5 separate regions of the Homo sapiens genome follow, and all the other regions are linked to region 2. Evidence: fine-mapped expression QTL. A gene starts in region 2. Each other region holds a variant in brackets. All regions are shown on one strand. Distances are from middle to middle.

Region 1 (6,392 bases), 210 kb before region 2:
TTCAAGTGGAACCCTTCAGTAGACACTTGGAATTCATTATTTTAATTCATACGTTTGATTTCACTCTTTCTCTTGGACTTCACATGTAATCCTATTATATTTATCTTTGAAATATATCCAGAATACAGCCAGTTTTTGTCACCACCACTGCTATATCCAAGCTTCCCAACTGGTCTTCCTACTTCTACCTTTTCCCACCTAGAATCTGTTCTTAGCACAGCTTCCGGAGGAAGGCCTTTAAATGCAATTCAGAATAAGCCACTCTTCTGCTATCCAGTGGCTTCCCATCTTATTCTACTTATTAAATAAAAGCCCATTTGATTTGATATCCCATTACCTGTCTGAGTTCATCTCTGGTTACTGTCCTTCTGATTGGTCTTACTCCAGCTACTTTAGCCTCCTTGCTTACCCCTGGCTTCCTCCCAGCTGAGTGTCTTTGCTCTTTGTTTTATCTGCTGGCAATGATTTTTCCCTAAATGTCTACCTGCATGTTCCCTCACTACTTGTGTCTTTGCTTAAATATCACCTTCTTAGTAAAGGTTTCACTGGCTCTTCTGCTTGGAACTCCTTATACCCTTTCCAGCTTTGTTTTCCTCCACAGCATCTATCATGACGTATGTAACATACTATTGATTTATTTTGCTTATTGCTTGCCTTTTTCCATTACAAAGGAAGCTCCACAGGGGCAAGAGCTTTTCAATTCTGTTTTGTTCCCTGCTTCAGCAGTCACACAGGGTCAAATAATTGACAACACTCACAAGACTTCTCAGGGTACACCCACATGTGGCTTTCTTTCAGCAAGAGAAAGAATGAACCTGCAAACACAAAGAGATCCACACTTCTGACAGAGCTCTCAGGGCCCTTTCTCAGTTACACAGGATGTGTTTAGATTTTCAGTTATAAACCATCAAGATACATGTGAGATATCTTGGCCTAGAGAGCCAAGACACAAGTTTTTTGAGGGGTCGTTTCTACCCAACTGGTTATATCAGATGCAAACCACCAATCTACATTTTCAATAAACAATGTAAATAAACAGTTGTGGAATGCCTCCAGGTTAGTTTTGGTCATAAAAATAGCATATTACAACTGACTAGTTAGTACATGTCACTGCATCTTGGCCAAGGGTCACTACCAGACTTCCAGGTATTTCTGGAGATTAGCATAACACTACCACAGGTCAGCTGTAAGTTAATCCTGTCTTTGACTGCACTGTCCCCAAGTAGAACAGTGCTTAGCACAATCTGCTCAATAAATATTTACTGAATGAATGAATAAATGAATCAATGAATGAAGGTTTCACATTTTATCTCTTTACATTTGCTAAAGTAAAACTTGGTTAGAAATTATTTCAGAACTTTTGGAATTGTAAACAGTTTACTTTGAATGTTGAAGAGACAGGTTAGTAAAAAACTGCCTTTATGATGATGGCTTTATTTCTCTTAGCTTACTAAAAGTTTCTCCCAAACTCTTCCCTTTTCTAGCACTTAAAAGCTGAAACTTTATGTAATTTTTATATTCTTATTCTTATTCTTATTATGTTTTCTCCTTAATAGCTCGTAACATTGTTTCTTTGAGGACAGTTCCTTAATTGATCTTTTATTACTCATGCTGAGATCTTTTTAAAATTACGAATATTTTAAATAATTATTTCCTTAATTACAGTTTCTACATTTCTAATATTTTTATTTTTCTGTTACTCATGTATTTACAGTTTTTTCTCCTTTTCCTGTCTTTTATGTTTGTCAGTTTCCCTTGTAGTATGATTCCTTATTTATGTAATTAGGCTAAAATTGTGCTGTTAGGTAATTAGGCTAAAATTGTAGATTCTTTGCTAATTTTTTTTAAACAAATACTATTTATATTTATAGTGTCAATATAGTGTTTGCAATTTTAGGAAACTTTTTTGGTATTATAGCATATATTTTATCAGCTGTTAGCTATCAGTTCATTAATGTCTTCCTCAAATATGATAGCGTTTCTGTCATCATAATCTCCTCCACTAGATTCTTTTTTTTCCCAATACCCCCAGCATTTTTGACAGCTTTATTGAGCTAGAATTTTTACAGCATAAATTTCAGCCATTTAAAATATACAACTCAAGTGGTTTTCAGTATATTTACAGAATTGTGCAACATCACCACATTTTTAGAACATTTTTATTACCCAAAAAAGAAACCTTATGCCCATTTGTAGTCACCCTTCATTCTCTTCCCCATGCAGCCCTAGGCAACCACTAATCTACTTTTTGTCTCTATGAATTTGCCTGTGCTAGACATTTCATAGAAATGAAATTATACCACATATGTTTATTGTATAACCAATGACTGGTTTCTTTTACTTAGCCTACTGTTTTCAAGTTTCATCCATGTTGTGGCATAATATCTCAACGTTCTAACTTTTTTTTTTTTTATTATACTTTAAGTTTTAGGGTACATGTGCACAACGTGCAGGTTTGTTACATATGTATACATGTGCCATGTAGGTGTGCTGCACCCATTAACTCGTCATTTAACATTAGGTATATCTCCTAATGCTATCCCTCCCCTCTCCCCCAACCCCACAACAGGCCCCAGTGTGTGATATTCTCCTTCCTGTGTCCATGCATTCTCATTGTTCAATTCCCACCTATGAGTGAGAACATGCGGTGTTTGGTTTTTTGTCCTTGCGATAGTTTGCTGAGAATGATGGTTTCCAGCTTCATCCGCATCCCTACAAAGGACATGAACTCATCATTTTTTATGGCTGCATAGTATTCCATGGTGTATATGTGCCACATTTTCTTAATCCAG[A/T]CTACCATTGTTGGACATTTGGGTTGGTTCCAAGTCTTTGCTATTGTGAATAGTGCCGCAGAAAACATACGTGTGCATGTGTCTTTATAGCAGCATGATTTATAATCCTTTGAGTATATACCCCGTAATGGAATGGCTGGGTCAAATGGTATTTCTAGTTCTAGATCCCTGAGGAATCGCCACACTGACTTCCACAATGGTTGAACTAGTTTACAGTCCCACCAACAGTGTAAAAGTGTTCCTATTTCTCCTCATCCTCTCCAGCACCTGTTGTTTCCTGACTTTTTAATGATCCTCATTCTAACTGGTGTGAGATGGTATCTCATTGTGGTTTTGATTTGCATTTCTCTGATGGCCAGTGATGATGAGCATTTTTTCACGTGTCTTTTGGCTGTATAAATGTCTTCTTTGGAGAAGTGTCTGTTCATATCCTTCGCCCACTTGTTGATGGGGTTGATTGTTTTTTTCTTGTAAATTTATTTGAGTTCATTGTAGATTCTGGATATTAGCCCTTTGTCAGATGAGTAGATTGCAAAAATTTTCTCCCATTCTGTAGGTTGCCTGTTCACTCTGATGGTAGTTTCTTTTGCTGTGCAGAAGCTCTTTTGTTTAATTAGATCCCATTTGTCAATTTTGGCTTTTGTTGCCATTGCTTTTGGCGTTTTAGACATGAAGTCCTTGCCCATGCCTATGTCCTGAATGGTATTACCTAGGTTTTCTTCTAGGGTTTTTATGGTTTTAGGTCTCACATTTAAGTCTTTATAATCCATCTTGAATTAATTTTTATATAAGGTGTAAGGAAGGGATCCAGTTTCAGCTCTCTACATATGGTTAGCCAGTTTTCCCAGCACCATTTATTAAATAGGGAATCCTTTCCCCATTGCTGGTTTTTCTCAGGTTTGTCAAAGATCAGATAGTTGTAGATATGTGGCATTATTTCTGAGGGCTCTGTTCTGTTCCATTGGTCTATATCTCTGTTTTGGTACGAGTACCATGCTGTTTTGGTTACTGTAGCCTTGTAGTATAGTTTGAAGTCAGGTAGCGTGATGCCTTCGGCTTTGTTCTTTTGGCTTAGTATTGTCTTGGCACTGCGGGCTCTTTTTTGGTTCCATGCAAACTTTATGGTAGTATTTTCCAATTCTGTGAAGAAAGTCAGTGGTAGCTTGATGGGGATGGCATTGAATCTATAAATTACTTTGGGCAGTATGGCCATTTTCACGATATTGATTCTTCCTACCCATGAGCATGGAATGTTCTCCCATTTGTTTGTATCCTCTTTTATTTCATTGAGCAGTGGTTTGTAGTTCTCCTTCAAGAGGTCCTTCACATCCCTTGTAAGTTGGATTCCTAGGTATTTTATTCTCTTTGTAGCAATTGTAAATGGGAGTTCACTCATGATTTGGCTGTTTATCTGTTATTGGTGTATAAGAATGTTTGTGATTTTTGCACATTGATTTTGTATCCTGAGCCTTTGCTGAAGTTGCTTATCAGCTTAAGGAGATTTTGGGCTGAGACGATGGGGTTTTCTAGATATACAATCATGACATCTGCAAACAGGGACAATTTGACTTCCTCTTTTCCTAATTGAATACCCTTTATTTCCTTCTCCTGCCTGATTGCCATGGCCAGAACTTTCAACGCTATGTTGAATAGGAGTGGTGAGAGAGGGCATCCCTCTCTTGTGCCAGTTTTCAAAGGGAATTCTTCCAGTTTTTGTCCATTCAGTATGATATTGGCTGTGGGTTTGTCATAGATAGCTCTTATTATTTTGAGATATGTCCCATCAATACGTAATTTATTGAGAGTTTTTAGCATGAAGTGTTGTTGAATTTTGTCCAACGCCTTTTCTGCATCTATTGGGATAATCCTGTGGTTTTTGTCATTGGTTCTGTTTATATGCTGGATTACATTTATTGATTTGCATGTGTTTAACCAGCCTTGCATCCCAGGGATGAAGCCCACTAGATCATGGTGGATAAGCTTTTTGATGTGCTGCTGGATTCGGTTTGCCAGTATTTTCTTGAGGATGTTTGCATTGATGTTGATCAGGGATATTGGTCCAAAATTCTCTTTTTTTGTTGTGTCTCTGCCAGGCTTTGGTATCAGGATGATACTGGCCTTATAAAATGAGTTAGGGAGGATTCCCTCTTTTTCTAATGATTGGAATAGTTTCAGAAAGAATGGTACCAGCTCCTCTTTGTACCTCTGGTAGAATTTGGCTGTGAATCCATCTGGTCCTGGACTTTTTTTTGGTTGGTAAGCTATTAATTATTGCCTCAATTTCAGAGCCTGTTATTTTTTTGTTTTTCCTTTTTGTGGAGAACGGGGTCTCACTGTATTTCCCAGGCAGGTCTCGAACTCCTGGGCTCAAGCTATCCTCCCACCTCTTGCCTCCCTGAGAGCTGGGATTACAGGCGTGAGCCACCGCACCCGGCCAGAGCCTGTTATTGGTCTATTCAGAGATTCAACTTCTTCCTGGTTTAGTCTTGGGAGGGTGTATGTGTCAAGGAATTTATCCATTTCTTCTAGATTTTTCTAGTTTATTTGTGTAGAGGTGTTTATAGTATTCTCTGATGGTAGTTTGTATTTCTGTGGGATCAGTGGTCATATCCCCTTTATCATTTTTTATTGTGTCTATTTGATTCTTCTCTCTTTTCTTCTTTATTAGTCTTGCTAGCGGTCTATCAATTTTGTTGATCTTTTCAAAAAACCAACTCCTGGATTCATTGGTTTTTTGAAGGGTTTTTTGTGTCTCTATCTCCTTCAGTTCTTCTCTGATCTTAGTTATTTCTTGCCTTCGGCTAGCTTTTGAATGTGTTTGCTCTTGCTTCTCTAGTTCTTTTAATTGTGATGTTAGGGTGTCAATTTTAGATCTTTCCTGCTTTCTCTTGTGGGCATTTAGTTCCATAAATTTCCTTCTACATACTGCTTTGAATGTGTTCCAGAGATTCTGGTATGTTGTGCCTTTTTTCTCATTGGTTTCAAAGAACATCTTTATTTCTGCCTTCATTTCGTTATGTACCCAGTAGTCACTCAGGAGCAGGTTGTTCAGTTTCCATGTAGTTGAGCTGTTCTGAGTGAGTTTCTTAATCCTGACTTCTAGTTTGATTGCACTGTGGTCTGAGAGACAGTTTGTTATGATTTCTGTTCTTTTACATTTGCTGAGGAGTGCTTTGCTTCCAACTATGTGATCAATTTTGAAATAAGTGCGATGTGGTGCTGAGAAGAATGTATATTCTGTTGACTTGGGGTGGAGAGTTCTGTAGATGTCTATTAGGTCCGCTTGGTGCAGAGCTGAGTTCAGTTCAATTCCTGGATATCCTTGTTAACGTTCTGTCTGGTTGATCTGTCTAATGTTGACAGTGGGGTGTTAAAGTCTCCCATTATTATTGTGTGGGAGTCTAAGTCTCTTTTTAGGTGTCTCAGGACTTGCTTTATGAATCTGGTTGCTCCTGTATTGGGTGCATATATATTTAGGATAGTTAGCTTGTCTTGTTGAATTGATCCCTTTACCATTATGTAATGGCCTTCTTTGTCTCTTTTGATCTTTGTTTGTTTAAAGTCTGTTTTATCAGAGACTAGGATTGCAACCCCTGCCTT
Region 2 (5,000 bases):
AAACACTTAAAACTCCAGTCCAATACACTCTCAATGTCAATACCCTCCCTATCTTTAAAAGAAGAAAAAAAAATACTAAATCATCTTTGTTTAAAGAATCCTGGCCCCTGTGATTTGTTAATTTGTTCGTGGTTTTATACTGTTACTACTGTAACAGTTTGCACTACACCATTTAGCAACTGATTACTACTTTGTATTAGCCTCTAATTGTTTAATGGGTGTACATTTTATCTCCTTAAAAAGATTGTAAGATGCCTTAGTCATGGGACTGTGCTGTTTATCTCATAGCCCTGACTGCTGACTTAATTGCCTTTTTCAAGTGTCTCTCTTGCCTAACCCTCACCACTCAGTACTCTGCCTGGCACATACTAGGTACTCAGTAAACATTTAATAAATGAAATGCCTCCTGGAGAGCAGGAACAAGCTTGTTATTTATATTGTTCTGGTCCCCTAGCAGAATTATCTTCTCTGGTGGGCACTCAGCACTCTGGTGTGACTTCATCGCTGTGCCTTTCAGCAGGGGAAATATAATCTCCCGGTTGCCCTATAAAGAATTGCCACCTGAACACTATGCCCACAAGAAGTCTGCTGAGAAATAACTGTTGATAGATTGACTTAGCCTCAAAGACATCCTTGATTCTTTTCTAAAGTGTGCATCTGCCCTTCCACAATAAACGATATTTGTGGTTATCTTGGCCAGGCTACCTAAGAAATACTTTAGGAGAATGTAATTTGAGTATCTTCTTGGCTTGAGAAAGCAAGCAAACAAACCAATAAGCAGAATGAAACCAACAAAACCCAATAGCAAAAGGATCTTCGTGTTTAATAACCCTATCTGCAAATTTTAAACAATTTTGTGCCCCTGGGAGAAAGAATGCCTCCTTGCGTGTGAATTTCCAGGGCTTTTAATTTATAGTGACAGTACATTCAACACTTCCTTTTAAATTTGAAGGGAGGTGGCCTTAAAAATATGCTGGCAACTAGTTTGGATGAGAAAGATTCCGGTTCTTTATTTATTCAAACCAATTAGACCAGGTCTGAACAGGATTTACAACAGAGAGCAGATCTTGGGTGCACAAGAGCTTTGCTTCATTCCAGGTTGGCGAAAACAAGTCAAGTCTACATCATTGTTCTGTCAGCCGGTTCAGGATACAGCACAGAGTCGATGGGATGGGGGTGGGAAGGTGATGAGTTCAGGTAAATGTACCTAGGAGAGTCAGAGGCTAAAGTAAATTCTCTTAAATAGGCCTTTTCAGTGGCTGCTAAATCTCGCTCATTTCCCATGAATTAGCTGTGGGATATTGGGGACAACTTACTTCACATTTCTAGGTCTTAGTCTCTTCATTCGTAAAAGGGGGTAACGATAATTTTGGAGTTATAGCATGTAAATGTGTAAAACGGTTAGAGCAATGCCTGGTACACTCACACATAGCACGCGCTTTGTGAAATGTTTGGCAAGTAAATAAAACGCTAAGCTATGCTAACCGCGTCTAAACAGCCAGCCACTTGTAAGCCCCACCTATATTGAAATTACGGGGACGCTGCTGTTTTCCGATTGCAAGATTTTCCTGATCCATGCAATTACTTTCGCTGCCCTCTACGAGGCTGAAACTCGCCCTCAGGATGTGGGACGTCTGGACTCTTCTCTCCGTCCCCTTGTAGCCCCCCACTCCCCCTCGCGGTGGTACCGTGAATGAGGGAGAGGTACACGTCCCCCTTCTTCCCCGCCTCCTATCTTCGCGGCTCGCTAAAGCGTTATCAGCCGCCCCACGGTACTACCGTCCGTCTAGGAACGCCTCCGGGGCGGGGCTGGGATGCCGCGCACGCGCAGTACAGCAGCGCCGCGCCTGCGCCGTGGAGAGCCTGAGGGAGGCGGGGGATTGGTATGCGAGCGAATGTGCGAGGGGAGGGAGGCGTCCCGGCGGAGCGTGGTACTACGACCAGCGCGGGCCGGAGGGGGCGGGGGGATGCGCCGCGGCGGCGGCGGCGCGGGAGCTGGGGTTGGTGTTTGGCGGCGCCAGAGCAGCGGATCCCGGTCTCGCCGCAGCAGCAGCGCGGGTGTCGTGCACCGCCTGAAGACGCCGTACCTTTCTACCCCCCACCTTTTTTTTTTTTTTTTTTAAATAACCGGAACCAATGAACGCAGCCGGGATCAGAGCTCCGGAGGCCGCCGGTGCCGATGGGACCAGGCTGGCGCCCGGCGGGAGCCCGTGTCTGAGGCGGCGGGGGCGGCCGGAGGAGTCGCCGGCGGCGGTGGTGGCGCCTCGCGGAGCCGGCGAGCTGCAGGCGGCCGGGGCGCCGCTGCGCTTTCACCCGGCTTCTCCTCGGCGCCTTCATCCCGCCTCGACTCCTGGCCCAGCGTGGGGCTGGCTGCTGCGGCGGCGGCGCTGGGCTGCGTTGCTGGTGCTCGGGCTGCTGGTAGCCGGAGCGGCGGACGGATGCGAGCTTGTGCCCCGGCACCTCCGCGGGCGGCGGGCGACTGGCTCTGCCGCAACTGCCGCCTCCTCTCCCGCCGCGGCGGCCGGCGATAGCCCGGCGCTCATGACAGGTGAGGGGCCGGGGGGCGGCGGGCGGGGCTCGGCCGGCAGCGATGGGACCCCCAACCCGTGCAGAGGTCAGCATCTCCGCCGGACGTCCGCTATTCCGCGGCTCCGGCCAGGGCGCGATGCGGAGCCCTGCCTGCTGCTTCGTCGCGGTCCCCTGCACTCCGGACGTCTTTCCTTTTCACCCCGACACCCCGCCCTCGCCGAGCCTCTCGACGGCACTGATTCCCCTCCCTTCAGTCGGGCTCTCCGATCTTCCAAGCTGAGCAATGCGGTGGTTTCTCTTTCGTGCTGCAGAAGTGCCAGCAGGGTCTGCAGGGGACTGGGCTGATTTTTTTTTTTTTTTTTTTTTTGAGGCTGCTAGAAAAAGTCAGCAGCAGCATTGCGGTATTGAGTCTACCTCTGGTGCTGCTTTTGCAAAGGCAGCTGGCAGCGAGTCTCACCGGTTCAAAGCTCCGCTTGAGCACAGCGTCCCAGGGGAGCCTGCTAAAGGGGATTCTTTGAGAGCCATAATACCTAGTGATATTAGTGGTTCCGTGTTAGTATGCAGAAATGCCTAAGTTTACAGTGCATTTTTTGCGGGGTGGAAGGAGGCCGTTTTAAGTGGTGATGGAAAGTGTTTGGTGGTGGGAGCATCACTGGGTGACAAAGGGTGTAGAAACCTCAGCAGGTAACCAGAAATTATACCTAAAATTTGCAAAGTGCAGCATACTCGGGGCTTGCAGCTGGCAGCACAGTTCTGATAGACTGCACTAGCACCTTTTTTTTAATATATAGAACGATCTCATAATTGAAAACTTGGAAACGTGTTTTGTAAGGTTAAGTGCAGAATTGTATCCTTTTTAAAGCCTTCCGGTGTTATGTACAACTGATCAGTTGTGGTTTAAGTAAAAGTTATTATATAAGGACCCTGAAATGATTTCTTTGGGAAAAGTAATGGAGCTAAAATAATGGTTTTTTTTTTTTTTTTTAGTATTTCACTTATTTTTAAAGTAGATCTGTAGATTTCCTACAATAATTGTAAGACTAAAAAGTTTAAAGTGGCAGAAGATGACCCGTGATTAATTTAACCAAAATGATAGTCCTGCGGGCGTCTGGAAGTTACTAACAGCTTCTCTGACAAGTGCTCAGGAACTGTATTCTTTAAAGCCAAGCAGTTTCTCTGATTTCTATGATAGGATATTTACTATTCTAGAGAGAAGAAGGATGTTGGTAAACTTTAAAAGCTTTGGAGGATGTAGAGTATAGAACATAATGGTCAGCATGTTTAACTTTACCCTGAAGCATATCAAGCCCTATTAAATGGAACTTGATACATCAAACCTACCAATTGGGTAACTGGGATAAAGTGATTATAGAATAATCAGTATTAGGAGCATAGTACAGTTTGAGTGAGAAGATAGGTCAGACAGCTTTATGCTTGAATAGTATTTATTCTCCAAATAAAAATGTGGCAAGTAACAGTATAGTGAAGAATAGTGATTATTAGGAAAGTTGATAAATAAGACTATAATTTGAAGATTTAATGCCTCATGCAGGAAGGGAAGGAGCAGGAATATTTAGGCTTCTAGAAGGTATAAGTGGTTCTAGGTTTCTCGAGCAGAAAAATGTGGTTAATACATAATTGGCTAATGCTCTGTGAAAAAGTAATTGGTAAAAAGGCAAGCAATTCAGAAAATTTAGTATTTATTGACTGCTAATAAGTATATTTTATACTGTGTAGATCACATCAAGAAAATTGGTCAGATGGAATTTTAATAAGCCATTTACAATCCCTTTTAAGACTTAAATTTCTCTATACTTATTTAAGGCATGGGGGAAAAAGGTGATTCTTATTGGAAAAAAATCCGATGTATCACACAAAATGAGTTTGTGCCATAGGGCTTTAAAATAAGTTTGCTAGAAGAATACCCTGGAATTATTTCTAACGTTCTTTTACTTTCCTTTTGTCAGAATATTGATTTTTAACAAGTTAAACGTTTCCACTTAAAGTTTAAATCATAAAACTACACAATATACAAATTAAATTGTTATTTTAATAAGTTTATGTAAATACAGTCAATAGCACCCATATCTTGGTAAAGGTAAACTGAAAATCTATGATGAAGTTAGAAAATATTGAAAATTTCTTTGAACTATATGGCCTCTATAGGGCTCTTTCCCATTCTTAAGAGTGTATGAATAGTGCTTTCTTTTATGGTTCTATTTGTAAATGTTATGCAAAGCCTAGAACCTAATTTATTAGCATTAGTGTACACTTCAGGAAGTAAAACCGTAGACTGAATTTACAAAATACTGTGGTGTGGTATCATATTGTAGGCAGCGTTAATGGATAGAGATGGAGTAGAGCATCAGTAATAAGAGAACTAAACGTCACGTGAATTTTGAAAATTGAAAATTTTTGAAAGCATTCTGAGAGAAGAATTGGTCTCTTTGTCTCCTGATTAAAGTTGTGAT
Region 3 (5,000 bases), 32 kb after region 2:
GGTCTGTGGTGTCCAGTTGTTTGGTCAAACACTAGTCTAGATGTTGCATGAAAGTAATTTGTAGATATGATTAGTATCTGTAAGTAGTTATGCTGAGAGATTGCCCTTGATGATATGAGTGGGCCTTATCCAATCAGTTGAAGGCCTTAGGAGCAGAAACTGAGGTTTCCTGAAAAAGAAGTATTTCTGCCTTAAGACTGTAACCTAGACATTTTGCTTGAGTTTCTAGCTTGCTAGCTTGCTCTTGTGACAGAATTTGGACTCAAGTAAAACATAAACTCTTGCCTGCACTACAGATTTCAGACTTGTCAGCCTGTATAATCTTGTGAACTAGTTCCTTAAAATAAATCTCTATATTTATACACATATATGTGTGTTTGTGCATGTATATATACATATAAAGATATGTGTATACATACATACACACACACACACACACACACACACACACACACACACACCCCCTTTTGGTTATTGGTTCTGTTTTTCTAGAAAACCCTGACTGATACACTCAGTAAATGGGCTAGAGTAGCACACCCAAATAAGGAATATGTTGCCTTCCAAATACAAAGAGGCCTACTAGACATTCTGTCTGTCTTGATTTTAGGAGGGACTAGCTAAAACAACTTTTACTTCACATTAGAAGGGATATGTCAACATGTACCACATCACTAGACCCTTAGAAATTTCACCGAGGTGGAAGGCTCCTTGTCTGTTCAGGTGATGTGGGTTGGCTCTGTGTCTCTACCCAAGTCTCATCTTGCGGCTCCCATAATTCCTATGTGTTGTGCGAGGGACCCAGTGGGAGATGATTGAATCTTGGGTGTGGGTCTTTCCCATGCTGTTCTCATGATAGTGAATGGGTCTTGTGAGATCTGATGGTTTTAAAATGGGAGTTTCTCTGCACAAGCTCTGTCTGCCGCTATCTGTGTAAGATGTGACTTGCTCCTCCTTACCTTCTGCCATAATTGTGAGGCCTCCCCAGCCATGCAGAACTGTAAGTCCAGTAAACCTCTTTCTTTTGTAAATTGCCCAGTCTTGGGTATATCTTTATCAGCAGCGTGAAAATGAACGAATACATCAGGCTTTAAGAAATTACCAAAGACTGCGTGGCTTAAACATCAAACATTTATTTCTCACAGCTCTGGAGGCTGAGAAATCCAAGATCAAGGTGCTGGCAGATCCAGTGTCTAGTGAGGGCACTCTTCTGTTTTGCGGCCATCTTTTTGTATCTTCATGTGGTGGACAGCAGAGAGAGCGAGTGAGCTCCTGTTTCATAAGAGCACTAATCCTATTCAAGACGGCGCCACCCTCATGACTGACAGACCTCCCAAAGGTCTCAATTCCTATTATTACTTTGGGAGTTAGGATTTTAACATATGAATTTTTTTGGGGGGGGACGCATATATTCAGTCCATGACACCCCTGGATTTTTGTCTTACTCATTTCTTACCTTCTGACATGCATATGTTTTACCAATAAGCTTAGAGTAATTGCAGTTTCTTGCTCACTAGGTCCAATTAGCATAAGGTCATGAATATAATGGGTTGTTGTGGTGTCTTGTGGAAGGGAAAGTTGATCAAGGTCTCTGGATTAAATTATGACGTAGGGCTGGAAAGTTGATATAACCCTGAGGTAAGAGTGAAAGTGTATTGCCTTTCAATCTTGCTAGCTAAAAACAAACTACTTCTGGCAGTTTTTATTAACACACGTTGAGGAAAAAAAGCATTTTTCAGATCCATATTTGCAAACCAGTTACCAGGGTATGTGTTAGTTTGCTCAAGCAGTGAAACCACATCTGGTACAGCAATTAGAATTGGAGTTACCTAGTTAAGTTTATAATAATGCACTGTCATTCTCCAAAATTCATCTGTTTTCTGCATGAGGTAAACAGGTAAGTTGAATGGGGATGTGTTAGAATCACTACCCCTGCATCCTTCAGGTCCTTGATAGTGGCACTAATGTATGCAGTTTTAGAGTGAAACATATTTGGAGTGACATATAAAATACACAGAAGAACATTAAATGTTTATGTAGTCTAATGAATAATAAAGGGAACCATTAAACCACCTTCAGGTCATGAAATAGAACTTCATCAACACCCCTAGAAGTTCCCCCTCCCCATAGTCCCTCTTCTTAATCACAACCTCTCCTACTGCCAGAGTTGTCATTATTTCTGTCATGATACTTTCCTTTCTTTTTACTTTTTACAATTTGTGTATGTTTACCTAGATAATATTATTTAGTTTTGTCTTTTTTGGACTGTATATTAATAAAATCATTGTATGTGCTTTTTGCCTGTCTTGCTTTTGCTCAAAAAAGTGTGAGATTTGTCCATTTTGTTCTGTGTAGCTGCATTCATTCATTTTTATTGCTGTATTCCAATTTTGAATACACTGTAGTTTATCCACTTTTCTTATGAAGCTTTTGTTTCTAGTTTTGACCTTTTATGAACAGTACTTCTGTGACTATTTCTTTATTGCACATTTTTTGAGTGAGTTTTTCAAGGGTGTGTAACCAAGGAGGTTGCTGGGTTAGGTGATATCAGCTTTCCTTAGTAATGCCAAATTATTTGCCAAAGCGGATGTATCAGTTTACTTTCCCAGTGTCACGAACATTGGTATTAAACATTCATTTTTTTTTTGAAGTTGAGCATCATTTCATATTACTAGTTATCTAGATTTCCTCTTTTGGAGATTGTCTATTTAAGTCTTCTGTTCATTTTTTTATTGAGTTGGAGTGTTTTTTTCTTACAGATAATTATTTTTTGAGACAGAGTCTTGTTGTGTCGCCCAGGCTAGAGTGCAGTGGCGTGATCTCAGCTCACTGCAACCTCTGCCTCCCGGGTTCAAGCGATTCTCCTTCCTCAGCTTCCCAAGTAGCTGGGATTACAGGTGCCCGCCACTGCGCCAGGCTAATTTTTATATTTTCAGTAAAAATGGGGTTTCACCATCTTGGCCAGACTGGGCTGGAACTCCTGACTTCGTGATCCACCCGCCTCGGCCTCCCAAAGTGCTGGGATTACAGGCGTGAGCCACTGCAC[C/G]TGGCCTAATTCTTTATATTTCTGTTATATTTGATCACAATTGCAATATCTCTTCCGAATTTTTGCCTTGTCTTTTTATATACTTATGTGTGTATATATATATATGGTGTATTAATAAACAGAAGTTCTTAATGAGAGTACTGCCAAATTAACTGGATTTTCCCTTTATAGTTAAAGCTTTTTGTGTCTTACTGAAGTAATCCTTTTCTATTCTGTCTTTTATTGTCTTTAGTTTAACTTAGTTTGTATTTCAAATTCAGGTTTTTATTCACTGAGAATTGATTTTGTGTTTTTTGAGAATCAGGTCTGATTTCCATTTTTTTCCTTCCGTGTGGATGTTCAGCCAATTGCAGCACCATTTTTTTTTTTTTAACAAGTTTGAATTTTCCCCACTAATCTGTGGTGCTAGTTGTGTCGTATAGCAAGTGTCTGTATGTGTGTGAGTCTGTTCTGGGCTCTTTATTTTTTCACTGATCTATTTTTCTGTTGCTTTGACAATACTCACAGTGTTTTTAAGTCACTGTCATCTTATATGTCTTAATATTTGGTATAGCAAGTTTTATTTGTTCTTTTTCAAGACTGGGCTATTCTTTGCCCTTTGCATATTCATATAAACTTTGCAATTAGCTTGTGAAGCTGCATGGAAAAAAACCTATTGGAACTGCACTGGTTCTATTAAATTGATTTGGAGGCAGTTGACATACTTATAACATTCAGTCATCCAGTCTAAAAATTTGATAATTATTTCTGGCCGGGTGCGGTGGCTCACATCTGTAATGCCAGCACTTTGGAAGGCCAAGGTGGGTGGATCACCTGAGGCCAGGAATTTGAGACCAGCCTGGCCAACATGGTGAAACTTCGTCTCTACTAAAAATACAAAAATTAGCTGGGCATGATGGCGCACGCCTGAAATCTCAGCTATCCAGGAGGGTGAGTTAGGAGAATTGCTTGAACTTGGGAGGCAGAGGTTGCAGTGAGCTGAGATTGCGCCACTGCACTCCAGCCTAGGCGACAGAGTGAGACTGTCTCCAAAATAAATTAATAAATACATAAATAAGTATTTGATAATTATTTCTATTTAAGTCTGTTTTAGTGGCTCTCATAAAATTTTATAGTTTTTCCCTAGAGGTCTTGCAGCTTGTTGTATTTATTCCTAGGTACTGTATTTATTCTTAGGTACTCTTTGATTCAAAACATAAACGTTTTTATTTTCAAAATGGTTTTGCCAGTTCCCAATGTTTAAAATAACAAATACCATCATGGATCCATACGTTTTGAGTTTTTTTGCATGTTAGGAAGCATGAACTTGCAAATATTTTTCTCCTTTTCCTAACTTTTTTTAGTATGGCTAGAGAAAGGCAAGATTTTGACCTTAAGTTGCGATGAGAAATGGAAGAAACTTTTTTTTATGTTTTTGAATTTGTCCATAACCCAGTTTCATCAGTTTTAAGTCTCCATCTTGCACTGTCATTTATGAGAGCAAACTAGAGTTGCAGTCCCAAACCATGGAACTTCTTTGTGTAGTTTGTTCTCATGAAACATTCAGCCAGAACAGGAGGGCCTAAGTTTCAGACAAATTTTAAATTAGTTTGGAAAAGTAAGTGGATCTATTTTTGGCTTATCTACTACCTCAAAGTCATTCTCTTTGTAAGGGTGTTTGAAGAGTAATAATCAAACTCAGTGTGTTAGTTTTCTACTGCTGCATAATGAATTACCATACACTCAGCACCTCAAAACATCATATGCTTGTTATTTAAGAGTTTCTGTTGGTGATGAGTCTGGGCATGGTTTACCTCAATTCTCAGATTCTCACAAGGCTGAAATCGAGGTGTTGGTTGGGCCATGTCCTCATCTGGAGCATGGAGTCCTCTTCCAGGCTTATTCTGGTTGTTGAGGTAATTGAGTTCCTTGTTGTAGTACTGAGGTCTTCAATTGCTTGATTTGACCACTTGTTGCT
Region 4 (5,000 bases), 160 kb after region 2:
TAGTTGGATCTAAGACTTCTGTTTAGTTCCACAGTAGTGGGTGTTCAAGAAACAAGTTTTGCTCTGAACTCTGCCTAACCAGCTGTGAGACTGTGCATACAGTAGTTAAGTGATTTCCTTGATTTAAAACTGATTGAGTTCAAAGAACTTGTGATATTTCAAGAGATACCATTGCAGCCTACTTTATTCTGTTGTCCTTTCTTTATGTTAACAGTCATAAAAAATTTGTGATACAATACAGGTTTTTAAATTTAAAGATTTGTTGTCTTAGGTAAATTTTTAAGCCTTTTTGGTTAGTACATTTAGATTTTCTGTTAAAGCCTCATGTTTATGTTCACTTCTGTTTGTTTTTTAAACCTGTTTTTTTTTTGTTTCTATTTCTTAACTTTCCTAGTGTAGGTAGTAGAGAATGGTAATAACTGTACAGTAACTTCAGTAAAGGGAGATGAAACAGTGACATATTAGTGACATCAGTTCTCTTGTGTGTATGTATTTGTGGTGACTGTAAAGGGAACCCTGGACTTCATGAGCATGTTTCTTTCTTGGTGTTTTTCAGGGACCATGGCTAAACCTCCTGGATCATTAGCCAGAAGCAGCAGCCTGTGCCGTTCACGCCGCAGCATTGTGCCGTCCTCGCCTCAGCCTCAGCGAGCTCAGCTTGCTCCACACGCCCCCCACCCGTCACACCCTCGGCACCCTCACCACCCGCAACACACACCACACTCCTTGCCTTCCCCTGATCCAGATATCCTCTCAGTGTCAAGTTGCCCTGCGCTTTATCGAAATGAAGAGGAGGAAGAGGCCATTTACTTCTCTGCTGAAAAGCAATGGTATTGGCAGTGAATAATCTACAGGGCATGTTGGGGCTGGGTTGGGGGTAAGGTGTGAGGAGGGGGCGGGAGGAGTGGTGCATGTTTCCATTTTCTGTTGCTACATATCAAGGTACCACAGACTTTGCAGCCTCAGACATCACCCATTTTTTAGCTCTTAGTTCTGTACATCAGAATTCCAAGCCTGGTGTGACTGGGGTTTTTGCTCAGGGCCTTACAAGGCTAAAATCATGGTGTTGGCCAGGCTGCATTCTCATCTGGAGCTTGCAGTTCTCAAAGTTCATGTGGTTGTGGCGAACTTCATTTCCTGTGGCTCCAGGACGGAGGTCCCCGTGTCTGTGCTTTCTGTCAGCTGCATGGCGGCTGCTCTCAGGTCCTGGAGGCTGTCCACTGTTCCTTGCCACAGGATCTCCCATCTTCAAAGCCAGCAATAGAGAATTTCTCTGCTGTAGATTCCTCCTTTGCTTTGAGTCTCCAACTTCCGTCTCTCTGATCTCTAGACTAAAATGTAAAAGGCTCCCCTGGATAATAATAATCTCTCTATATTAACATCAACTAGTTTGGGGCCTTAATTTTATCTTCAGAATCCCTTTACAGCAGCATCTATTTTTATGTTTGATTGGAAAACTGGAAGAAGGTGTGTGTACACCAGGGGCTGGGAATTTGGGAGCCATCTTAGAATTCTGCCTACCACAGACATGTAGGTAGATATTTTGAGATGTAACTGCTTAGAGGTCACTGGACACGGTTGACTCAGATCTCAGAGCATAAACTTGTCATGAACAATTTTATATGTAAAATGGAAAAGCATGAGCTTGAATATACTTGAACACGAAGAAATATCGGATATGACTGACTTAAAAATATTTGTTGTCACTTAATGATTTATTCTGTTATGTGCTGGTACTTGCTAACACATAAGCAGTATCATATGCCAAAGGTTTAAGAAAATGTCAGGAACTTAGAAAAGTAAATTAGTAACTTAACAAAATGGGCATAGCAGCAGCGTATTTCAGTCCAACTTAATGACATCAGTGCTCCATGAAACTCTTAATTTGAGGAGCTCTGTTCTTAAACCACATTACTCTTTAAAAGCAGTATGGTATTGAGTGGTAGTTTCAGGTATTGCCACTGAGTAGCTATGTGTCCCCAAAGGCTTTACCCTCTTCTATGAGAAGCAAAAGGGAGTGGTCTACACTCTTTATCATGTGACTCTTTAGGTGACATTATCATCAATAATCATTTTTCATTCATAATTATCTAGTAGTAAAAGAAAATTTTATGATTTGCAAGTGATCAGTGCAGCATATTCCTAAGGAGATAATGCAGGCTTTATATCTTCATTGCAGTTGGAGAATCTGATGCGACTTTGCTTGGTTAACACTTTATGACTAGCTTTTCGTCTGTCTTTGCAGTATGATCATAGTCACCAGCAAGATGCCTTTACTGACAGAACTGGTCTTGTGTGGTTTCTGGAAATCAGAAGGAAAACTCGAGAGCTGCACTGTCTAATAAAACTTCCTGCATTGATGGAACGTTCAGTTCTCATTTCAATAGCAATGTCAAAGTTTCATAGCTAGCTCTCATAAATAAGAGAATGATTTGAATTTGGAAAACTTTTCTTCCTCTTCATTTTCAGTCTCTCCTCTATTGAACCACCAGAATCCTTACAAAATAATAATGTTGAATATTTACTG[A/AT]TTTTTTTTTTTTATGAGACGGAGTCTCGCTCTGTTGGAATGTTCTATGCCTTATGCACATATATGCTCATTTAAACCTCATTTTGAGTTTTCTTACATGTGAATTCAACTCCATGTCACTCTGGGGAAAAAAAGAAATAGAAAAAAATAGCATAAGTGGTACAGATAGTTCAACATTCCAAAGAGTATGTACTCTGCAAGAAAATAAAATTTGAACTTGTATTATGTCTTATTATCCAAGTCAGATTAGTTATGCAGAAGAAGCAACACTTTGGATTATTGTCATTACGCAATTCAAATGTTAGAACTAGAAGGTAACATTAGTGATTAATCAAATTTTCTTACTTTAACAGATAGGAAAATTGAGACCTCAAGAGATCAAGTGATTTACTGAGGCTTTTACAACTGATTAATGGTAGGACCATCTTAGGAACCCAAGTCTCCTGACTTAAATCAGTATTCTTTTCACACATTGTTTAGAGTTTAGAGGCTAGTTTTTAAAATACTTTTAGCCTAGCTTAGAATTTCACACACAATGCAGCAAAGCCACATAACAGAAGAGAAAATATTCATAAAATTATAACTGAATCAGCTTCTGACTTTGGAAGCTGAACAGCTTCAGGGAACAGTGATATATTCTGTTCAATTAATGGACAGCCATTCCAAAAAAGGCTTTGCAGAAATGCCTCTATCAATGATTGATTTCTGAGTCTGATCATTTCCTCATATCTGAACTGCTTCTTGCTTTCTGTTAGCACTACCCATTATTGAATTATAAAAGCATTTGAGAATTATGCAGCACACGTAGGTGTATTATGTGAAACCATTAGGTCGTTATTTAGGGGATTTTGTACCTTTCGAGAGCTTGTAGTGCAGTAAAGACGATCTTCATAGACATATGTGAGTAAAGTACATAGAAATGACTAAATTCAGCAATCTGAATATGTATCTAAAATGTGGTATTAACATAGAATATTCATCAAAATTAAGTGCCAGACCTCCAGTAAATGTGTACATCAGTAACATGAAAATGATATTAATCATAGGCCATCTAAGGTAAGAGATCATTTAGTTTATTCATTTTGTAAATATGAATTTAGTCCTTGCTATGAGAGGTGCATTTGCCTATAACATGAGCTGCCAAGACAAGTGAGACAAGGACCTGGCCTAGTTCCAGCTGCTGGGTTATAATCATATGTGCTCTTGCCTTTCTGTTCTGCCTTCAGCTCTGTTCCCTTCTCACACTGTATTTCTTTTGCCACTTTTTACCTTGACTCTCCCTTTCATTTCTCAATCATTTCCTTTCATGGAGTGAACAGTATTCACCTTGGGCTCGGTGCGTGCAAAAGTGAATGAGACTAAGTAGTAAAGCTCTCAAAAAAAAAAAGTGAGTAAGATGTGATCCCTGTTCTTTAATATCTCACTCTGTTCATTCATTCATTCACCCACCCTTCCATTCATTCATCCAACACATTTTTATGAAGTACCTACCGTAAACTTGCCACTCTTCTAGTGCAGAGAAGACAGAAGTTAATAAGGCTCCTTGTCCTTATTTATTTCTTTTTTTCTGGGATTCTGCCTATAAACAAGTTAATATAAAATATCATTTTAGGTTTTGGTAAGTTTTGGGGTTGCAAACAAAGACAGGTAAAAGGAAAGAGAATGCTGTTTCAGACAAGGTGGTTAGGGCAGGCAGCAGTAACCTGCGTACCCTGGAGAAGTAAGCCACGTGGAGATGGAGAGTAGATAACACCAAGCAGAGGGAACAGCAAATGCAGGGCCCTGAGGGGTCTCGAGGTTGGCATGTTACAGGAACACAAGGGAGTGTGCAGTTGGAGACAGCCAGGGACCACATGTACACGGCCTGGTACGCTTTGACAAGGACTTTGGATCTTACTCTGAGTATGAGAGAAAGCACTGGGAAGTTTCAAGTAAGTGAATGATATGTTTTGCTTGAGTTTTTAAAAATCACTTTAATGGCTGTGTAGAGAAGTAGCTGGGAGGGAAGAATGAGAATGAAAGCAGGAAGACCAATTAGGAAGCCGTTGCAATCATTTAGTTGAGTTCCTGGCTGTTGCAGAGGAAGGATGGGAGCAGGGGACATAATAAGGAATGGTGGATTTGAGAGAGATTTGAAGGAATGGGTGATGGCATTTACTATATGTTGGTTTTGGGGTTACAAAATTTATTTTTCCACTGTGGAGAAAAGGAGGAAAACATTCAAAAGTAAGAATGCTGTGAGAATTTACTGAATGTCTGTTTTTTTTAAAAATAGCATCATATGTTTGCCCCTCCCCTCCACTGCCATACTCTGATGTGCCTCGATTCCCTGCCCCCCTTTTAAATTTGGTAGAACTTACATTTTAGTGTAATTCCTTTCATGTATATTTCTTCCTTCCTAACAAAGCTATAGTTCATCAAGTTAATGACAAAGGGAGAGGCAGTGACTAAAATTCATCTTTTAAAATAGCGT
Region 5 (6,392 bases), 570 kb before region 2:
TAGCTGGGAGGTTCTAGCTTGGGATCTATAAAGGGATTGTAGTCAAGAAGTTGGCTGGACATACAGTCTTCTGAAAATTTGACTAAGGCTGAAGAATCTGTTTCCAAGGTGGCGCTCTCATGGCCGATGGCAGAGTCTTCAGTTGCTTATCACAGGGACTTCCTTGCAGAGCTGTTTGAGTGCCCCTCTGGCATGGCAGTTGGCTTCTTCTGCAATGAGTGATCTAAGAGCAAGAGCAAGGAGGAAGCCACAATGCATGTAATGACTTATTCTCACGGGTTGCACATTGTCACTGCTGCCACATTGAATTCGCTAAAACTCAGTTACTGACTACAGACCACACCCTAGGAGAGAAGAATTAGGCTCCACTTCTTGAAAGGAGTATCAAAGAACTTGCAAATTTATTTGTGAGTTTATTTTAAAAGCCCTCACAAACACGTATTCTTTAAACTAGAGTGGCTCAGCCCTGCAAGACAGGGAAGTTATAACAACCAACATTTCTAGAGTGACTCACTGTTTAGAAAGTATTTCCCCATGTTTTCTCATTGGGTTGTCACAACCCCCCAGTGGAACAACAGCATTAATATCCCCACTTAAAAATGAGGAAATGGAAGCGAGGTCACTTTTGTACAGTTATTTAACAAGTAAGTTGTATAGCTGGGGATTAAGCCCAGCACAAAGCATAAGGCCTTTTCACCATCCTTCAAATGAGAAACTTGGCATGAAGGCCTTTGCACAGAAAAGTTTCATTAGGAAGATTGACTATTCCTTACTTCCTACCAATTGTTTTTACCTATTTTATTAAATTTTTTTATGTTTAACTTACATACTTCCAAAATTACTTGAAGCAGTTTACAAATAAAATGTTTAAGAAAGAAAGAGGAGTAGGGCTGGGCCTGGTGGCTCATGCCTGTAATCCCAGCACTTTGGGAGGCCGAGGTGGACAGATCACTAGAGGTCAGGAGTTCAAGACCAGCCTGGCCAACATAGTGAAACCCCATCTCTACTAAAAATACAAAAATTAGCTGGGCACAGTGGCAGGTGCCTGTGATCCCAGCTACTTGGGAGGCTGAGGTGGGAGAACCACTTGAACCTGAGAGTGGTATGCAGGTCAAACCACTGCACTCCAGCCTCAGCGACAGAGTGAGACTTGGTCTCAAAAAAAAAAAAAAAAAAAAAAAGAAAAAGAAAAAGGAGTAAATAATTCTAGGCACCAGAAATGATCATATTACAACACTTGGCAATAAATTTGGTTCAGATCTTTCTGGCAGCAGAGGTGAAAAGAGAAGCGTGATAGGCTGCAGAGATTTCACTTTCTGACAAGAGTGAGCATGCATGCTATCATTGCCTGAAGCTAAATTCAAGAAGGACTTTATCACGTGGAGTTGTGTAGAGTTAATACCGCTTAACATTGTGGTCAGTATCTTCAATCACACGCTTGCAAAAGATGTACTCATATTAACCCTGAATGTAAACAGAGGACACACCTCACCTGTAAGTTGGTTAATATATTTGAGGAAGAAGCTGAGGAAAGGTGGCCCAGGTACCTTTCTCTCTAATGTCTTTACCAAATTAAGGCATAGAACTTGGAGAATATACAGGAATTGAAGGTTGATCTGTCTGGTGGACTGTCTCTCAAGTATCAGAGTTGTGAGAGTGCTTGAATGACCTGCTAAATCTTGTTAATTTGTCTTGGCATCTTGTAACAGGTACCTACCTGTAATATAAATATTCTATATTGTCAATTAATTAAGGACTTTGCTAAAAGAGAGCAAGGAATGCCAATATAAAGTTAAAGAAAAATATAAAATAAATAAGTTAGGCTGGGCATGGTGACTCATGTCTGAAATCCCAGGACTTTGGGAGGACATGGTGGGAGGGTTGCTTGAGGCCAGGAGTTCGAAACCAGCCTAGGCAAAACAGCGAGACCCCACCTCCCATCTCTACATGTGACTTAAAAAACTTAGCTGGGCATGGTGGTACATGCCTGTAGTCCTAGCTACTTGGAAGACTGTGACAGGAGGTTCACTTGAGCTCAGGAGTTTGAGGCTGCAGTGAGCTATGATTGCACCACAGAACGAGACCCTGTCTAAAAAAAAAAAAAAAAAAAAGTAAAAAAAGTTAGACCGCATGAGCTGTAATAACCCTTTTTGGACCAATATGCTGTGACTCTGTGGCTTTAAGGATGAGATGCCAATATGCATTCTTGTCCCAGTAGAGAGCCAGCCCAGTTTGGCCTGGGTGTGAGAAGCAAAGCTATCAAAAGCTTTGGCCAATTTTTTCCCCCAAAAGGAATTCCAAATATATCCAAGCTTCTATGTTAGTGACTGATTGAAACCAAAGCTTTATACCATATGACATAGAATCCTGGAATAGATAACTTTAGGCTGAAGAAAAAAGAAAAGTTAAGGCAGGTGTGAGCAGCTGTCCAGTTCTGCCATAAAAGAAATCAAGTTTAACTTCAGCGATAACATGCCTTCTTTTAAGCACTCGAGTTTTGTTAGGTTCTCTCCAGTTGGCTGAAAATTACACCCTAAATATTCCTCTAAAAGTAGATAACTTAGTGCACTTTTATTTAATATTACAGTACTTATAAAGGTTTCTATTAATGGG[T/C]CTCCTCCTTCGAGAAGAGAATCGTAAATGAAATACATAAAGATTAATAGCCTTTATTTATTTCTTAAACCAGCTGGTCTTCCTCTAAGAAAGCAGATATGCTAAAGTAAATAATCCTTCATTTTAAAAAATAGAAAGCATTCCCCTTGAATGCTGTTTACTGGCTGTGAGCAAATAGGTATTCACTTAGAAGGCTTTGCTCTCTGTTTATTACCCATATTTCTATAATACCTGCTTCAGAAGTGTTGCAGAAAGACAAAATTAATGTGCATGGAAAAAAAGCAGAGAAAATGAGTGTTAATCTTTGTGGAACAATCCAGAGTCCAGAGAAAGAGGCGAGTAGGGGGAGAAGCCACTTGTTGGAATGACTAGTATATTAAGATTCTCTTCTGGGTTATGGGTTAACATCTGCATCATTGAGGTCTATTCACAACAGGATATTGTTCAGTATAACTTTTTGCATCCAACAGAAATACAAATATTAATTTTCATGGCATAGAGAAAACTTCAAAATTTGGGAAAGTACTGAAGGATGTTATCACAAAGTTGTCATTTAGAGTCCAAGAACAGTCTTAACAATTGTACAAGCTTCAGAGCAAGGGCAGAAAATCAAGACATCAAATTGTCATGTGGGAAATCTATTCTGGGGAGTTGTAGAATAAATACTCACTAATAAGAAAAGGTGGGGAAGGTCCTTCTAAGCAAAGGAAATGAGTGACAAGACAAGCAGGTATGAATGACTTTTTTTTTTTTTTGAGATGGAGTCTCGCTCTGTCGCCCAGGCCAGAGTGCAGTGGCACAGTCCCTGCTCACTGCAACCTCCGCCTCCTGGGTTCAAGTGATTCTCCTGCCTCAGCCTCCTGAGTAACTGGGATTACAGGCATGCGCTGCCATGCCTGGTTAATTTTTGTATTTTAATAGAGACAGGGTTTCACCATGTTGGCCAGGCTGGTCTTGAACTCCTGACCTCCGTTGATCCACCTGCCTCGGCCTCCCAAAGGTCTGGGATTATAGGTGTGAGTCACTGCGTCCAGCCCTTCAGTTTGTTTTTTAAGGTTTTACATATATTTTTATTTTTTCCAGTTTTATTGAGGTATACTTGACAAATAAAACCATACAAGTTTAACGTGTACAATGTGACGATTTGATATATGTACATATTGTGAAATGATTACCACAATCAAGTTAGTTAACACATCCCTCACGTCACACTTTTACTTTTTTTAATGTGTGGTGAAAATATTTAAGATCTAATGTCTTAGCAGATTTCAAGTGTGCAATACAGTATTGGCAATTATTGCCACCATGCTTTATATTTAGTCTCCAGAACTTACTCATCTTATAACTGAAAGTTTGTACATTTTGACCAACATCTTTCCATTTTCCCTACTCCTCAGCCCCTGGCAACCTCTATTCTATTCTCTGCTTCTATGAGTTCAACTTCATAGATTTTACATAAAAGTGACATCACACAGTATTTGCCTTTCTCTGTGTGACTTATTTCATTTAGCATAATGGCCTCAAGTTGCATCCATGTTGTTGCAAATGGCAAAATTTCCTCACTTTTTTTTTATGACTGAATAATATATATATTTTTATGAGATGGAGTCTAGCTCTGTTGCCCAGGCTGGTATGCAGTGGCACAATCTCGGCTCACTGCAACCTCTGCCTCCCGGGTTCAAGCGATTCTCCTGTCTCAGCCTCCCGAGTAGCTGGGATTACAGCCGCCCACCATCGGGCTCAGCTAACTTTTGTTATTTTTAGTAGAGACGAGGTTTCACCATGTTGGCCAGGCTGGTCTCAAACTCCTGACCTCAAGTGAGCCACCTGCCTTGGCCTCCCAAATTGCCGGGATTACAGGTGCGAGCCACTGAGCCTGGCCAAAATCCTAACAGAATAACATTCTATTGTGTATGTATTAAAAAACTGTGGTGTGTGTGTATGTGTGAGGTATATACATATATATATATATGGTGTGTTTATATATATATATGTGTATCACAATTTTTTAATCCATTCATCCATCAGTGGACACTTAGGTTGTTTCCATGTCTTGGCTATTGTGAATAATGCTCCAATGAACATGGGCATGCAGATATCACTTTGATATATGGTTTCCTTCTGATGTTATACCCAGAAATGGGACTGCTGGTTCATTAGGGTAGATAGCATATTTGGATCTGTATACTATGGACACTTGGATATAGCTGGAGCACAAGGTACAGGGAGGGGAGTGAGAATGGGAGAGTAGGCTGGAAAGGTAAGCAGAAGCCACACTCTGAAGGGGCTCTTAGGCCAGTTGGGGTCCTTCTACTGCATAACCCAGGTTCCTCCTCAGGCCCAAGTAGGCTCTTAGCATTCCCTTTTCTTCCTCAGCTGCAGGCCTCAGGGCTTTGCTAGGTTTCCCCCCTTTACTAGGTGTTACCACTCACCCCATCTCTTGCATCTGGAAGGTGGTGCCCTCAGCTTCCTTTTTTTTTTTATTTTGTTTATTGCAAGACAGCACAGAGTCAGCTTGGCATGATGGCTCACACCTGTAATCCCAGCACTTTGGGAGGCTGAGGCAGGAGGATTGCTTGAGCCCAGGAGTTCAAGGGCAGCCTGGGCAACATAGTGAGATCCTGTCCTCACAAAAAATTTTTTTTAATTAGCCAAGTCTGGTGGCACATGCCTAAAGTCTCAGCTACTTGGGAGGCTGAGGCAGAAAGTTTGCTTGAACCCAGGAGTTCGGGGCTGCACTGAGCTGTGATTGTGCCATAGTACTCCAGCCTGGGTGACAGAGTGAGACCATGTCTCCAAAATAAGAAATAAAAAAATAAAAAGCACAGAGTTTTTATATTAAAAGATTTTCCAATGCTAATTATGATGGCAAAACAATTCAGGAATGACAAAAATAATAGACATGTATATGAGAAGTGTTTTTTTCTTCTTTTTTTGAGATGGAGTCTCGATTTGTCACCAAGGCTGGAGTGCAGTGGCACGATCTCTGCTCACTGCAACCTCTGCCTCCCAGGTTCAAGCAATTCTCCTGCCTCAGCTTCCCCAGTAGCTGGGATTACAGGCATGTGCCACCACACTCAGCTAATTTTTGTGTTTTTGGTAGAGACAGGGTTTCACCATGCTGGCCAAGCTGGTCTCGAGCTCCTGACCTCAGGTAATCTGCTCACCTCAACCTCCCAAAGTGCTGGGATTACTGGCATGAGCCATGGCACCCGGCCAGGAAGTTGTTTTTGTTTTTGTTTTTGTTTTTGTTTTTGTTTTTGTTTTTGTTTTTTTGAGATGGAGTCTCACTCTGTCGCCCAGATTGGAGTGCAGTGGCACCATCTCAGCTCACTGCAACCTCTGTCACCCGGGTTCAAGCAATTCTCCTGCCTCAGCCTCCCGAGTAGCTGGGATTACAGGCACCTGCCACCATGCCTGGCTAATTTTTGTAGTTTTTAGTAGAGACAGGGTTTCACCATCTTGGCCAGGCTAGTCTTGAACTCCTGACCTTGTGATCCACCCGCCTTGGCCTCCCAAAGTGCTGGGAATACAGGCATGAGCCATCACGCCCGGCTGGGAAGTTTTAAATTTAGGAGTAAGATGATCTGATTTACATTTTTAAAAGTACTCCAGATGTCGTGTAGAGAGTGGATTGTAGGGGACGGGAGTGGAGTAGAGGTCGGGAGAAGCAGGGAAGGTAACACAGGTACCTAGAAAGAGGTGATGGTGCCCCGGACTAGGGCGTAGAAGGAAGATGGTCAAAATTTTTATATGTAGGCTGGGTGCAATGGCTCATG

Alleles and levels. Positions count from the first base shown, and alleles are read on the strand shown. Sizes are in standard deviations (SD) of each study's normalised expression. Not every link is listed here.
As copies of AT replace A in region 4, the expression in Th2 cells of the gene that starts at base 2,020 in region 2 goes down (large effect, 0.81 SD a copy in Schmiedel 2018).

What was found. PIP is the estimated chance that this variant, and not a neighbour inherited with it, causes the effect.
Region 1: its variant is the best candidate, but not a certain one, in a credible set for the expression of STIM2 in whole blood (TOPMed, PIP 0.78).
Region 3: its variant is the best candidate, but not a certain one, in a credible set for the expression of STIM2 in CD4 T cells (BLUEPRINT, PIP 0.81).
Region 4: its variant is the best candidate, but not a certain one, in a credible set for the expression of STIM2 in Th2 cells (Schmiedel 2018, PIP 0.58).
Region 5: its variant is the best candidate, but not a certain one, in a credible set for the expression of STIM2 in aorta (GTEx, PIP 0.81).

Annotation. Positions count from the first base shown.
Region 1 is chr4:26,647,313-26,653,704 of GRCh38, forward strand. All of the region lies in intron 7 of TBC1D19 (TBC1 domain family member 19), which reads left to right. Among named protein-coding and RNA genes, the nearest start is that of TBC1D19, 66 kb to the left of the region's middle. The variant A/T (reference allele first, on the strand shown) is at 2,793.
Region 2 is chr4:26,858,822-26,863,821 of GRCh38, forward strand. It overlaps STIM2 (stromal interaction molecule 2), which reads left to right and starts at 2,020. Exons shown (of 12, transcript NM_020860.4): 1 at 2,020-2,548. The coding sequence starts at 2,398. It overlaps STIM2-AS1 (STIM2 antisense RNA 1), which reads right to left and starts at 1,778. Exons shown (of 2, transcript NR_134674.1): 1 at 1,689-1,778; 2 at 803-1,207. It also overlaps a transcript of TBC1D19 not described here. RefSeq lists an enhancer at 1,577-1,676 and silencers at 1,767-2,136, 2,147-2,716.
Region 3 is chr4:26,891,138-26,896,137 of GRCh38, forward strand. The region is part of intron 1 of STIM2 (stromal interaction molecule 2); the gene reads left to right. Among named protein-coding and RNA genes, the nearest start is that of STIM2, 33 kb to the left of the region's middle. The variant C/G (reference allele first, on the strand shown) is at 3,044.
Region 4 is chr4:27,017,155-27,022,154 of GRCh38, forward strand. It overlaps STIM2 (stromal interaction molecule 2), which reads left to right. Exons shown (of 12, transcript NM_020860.4): 11 at 557-830. Among named protein-coding and RNA genes, the nearest start is that of STIM2, 160 kb to the left of the region's middle. RefSeq lists enhancers at 163-664, 665-1,164. The variant A/AT (reference allele first, on the strand shown) is at 2,528.
Region 5 is chr4:26,288,227-26,294,618 of GRCh38, forward strand. It overlaps LOC105374542 (a long non-coding RNA gene), which reads right to left. Exons shown (of 2, transcript XR_925508.3): 2 at 1-223. It also overlaps a transcript of RBPJ not described here. Among named protein-coding and RNA genes, the nearest start is that of RBPJ, 30 kb to the right of the region's middle. RefSeq lists an enhancer at 419-468 and a silencer at 639-688. The variant T/C (reference allele first, on the strand shown) is at 2,614.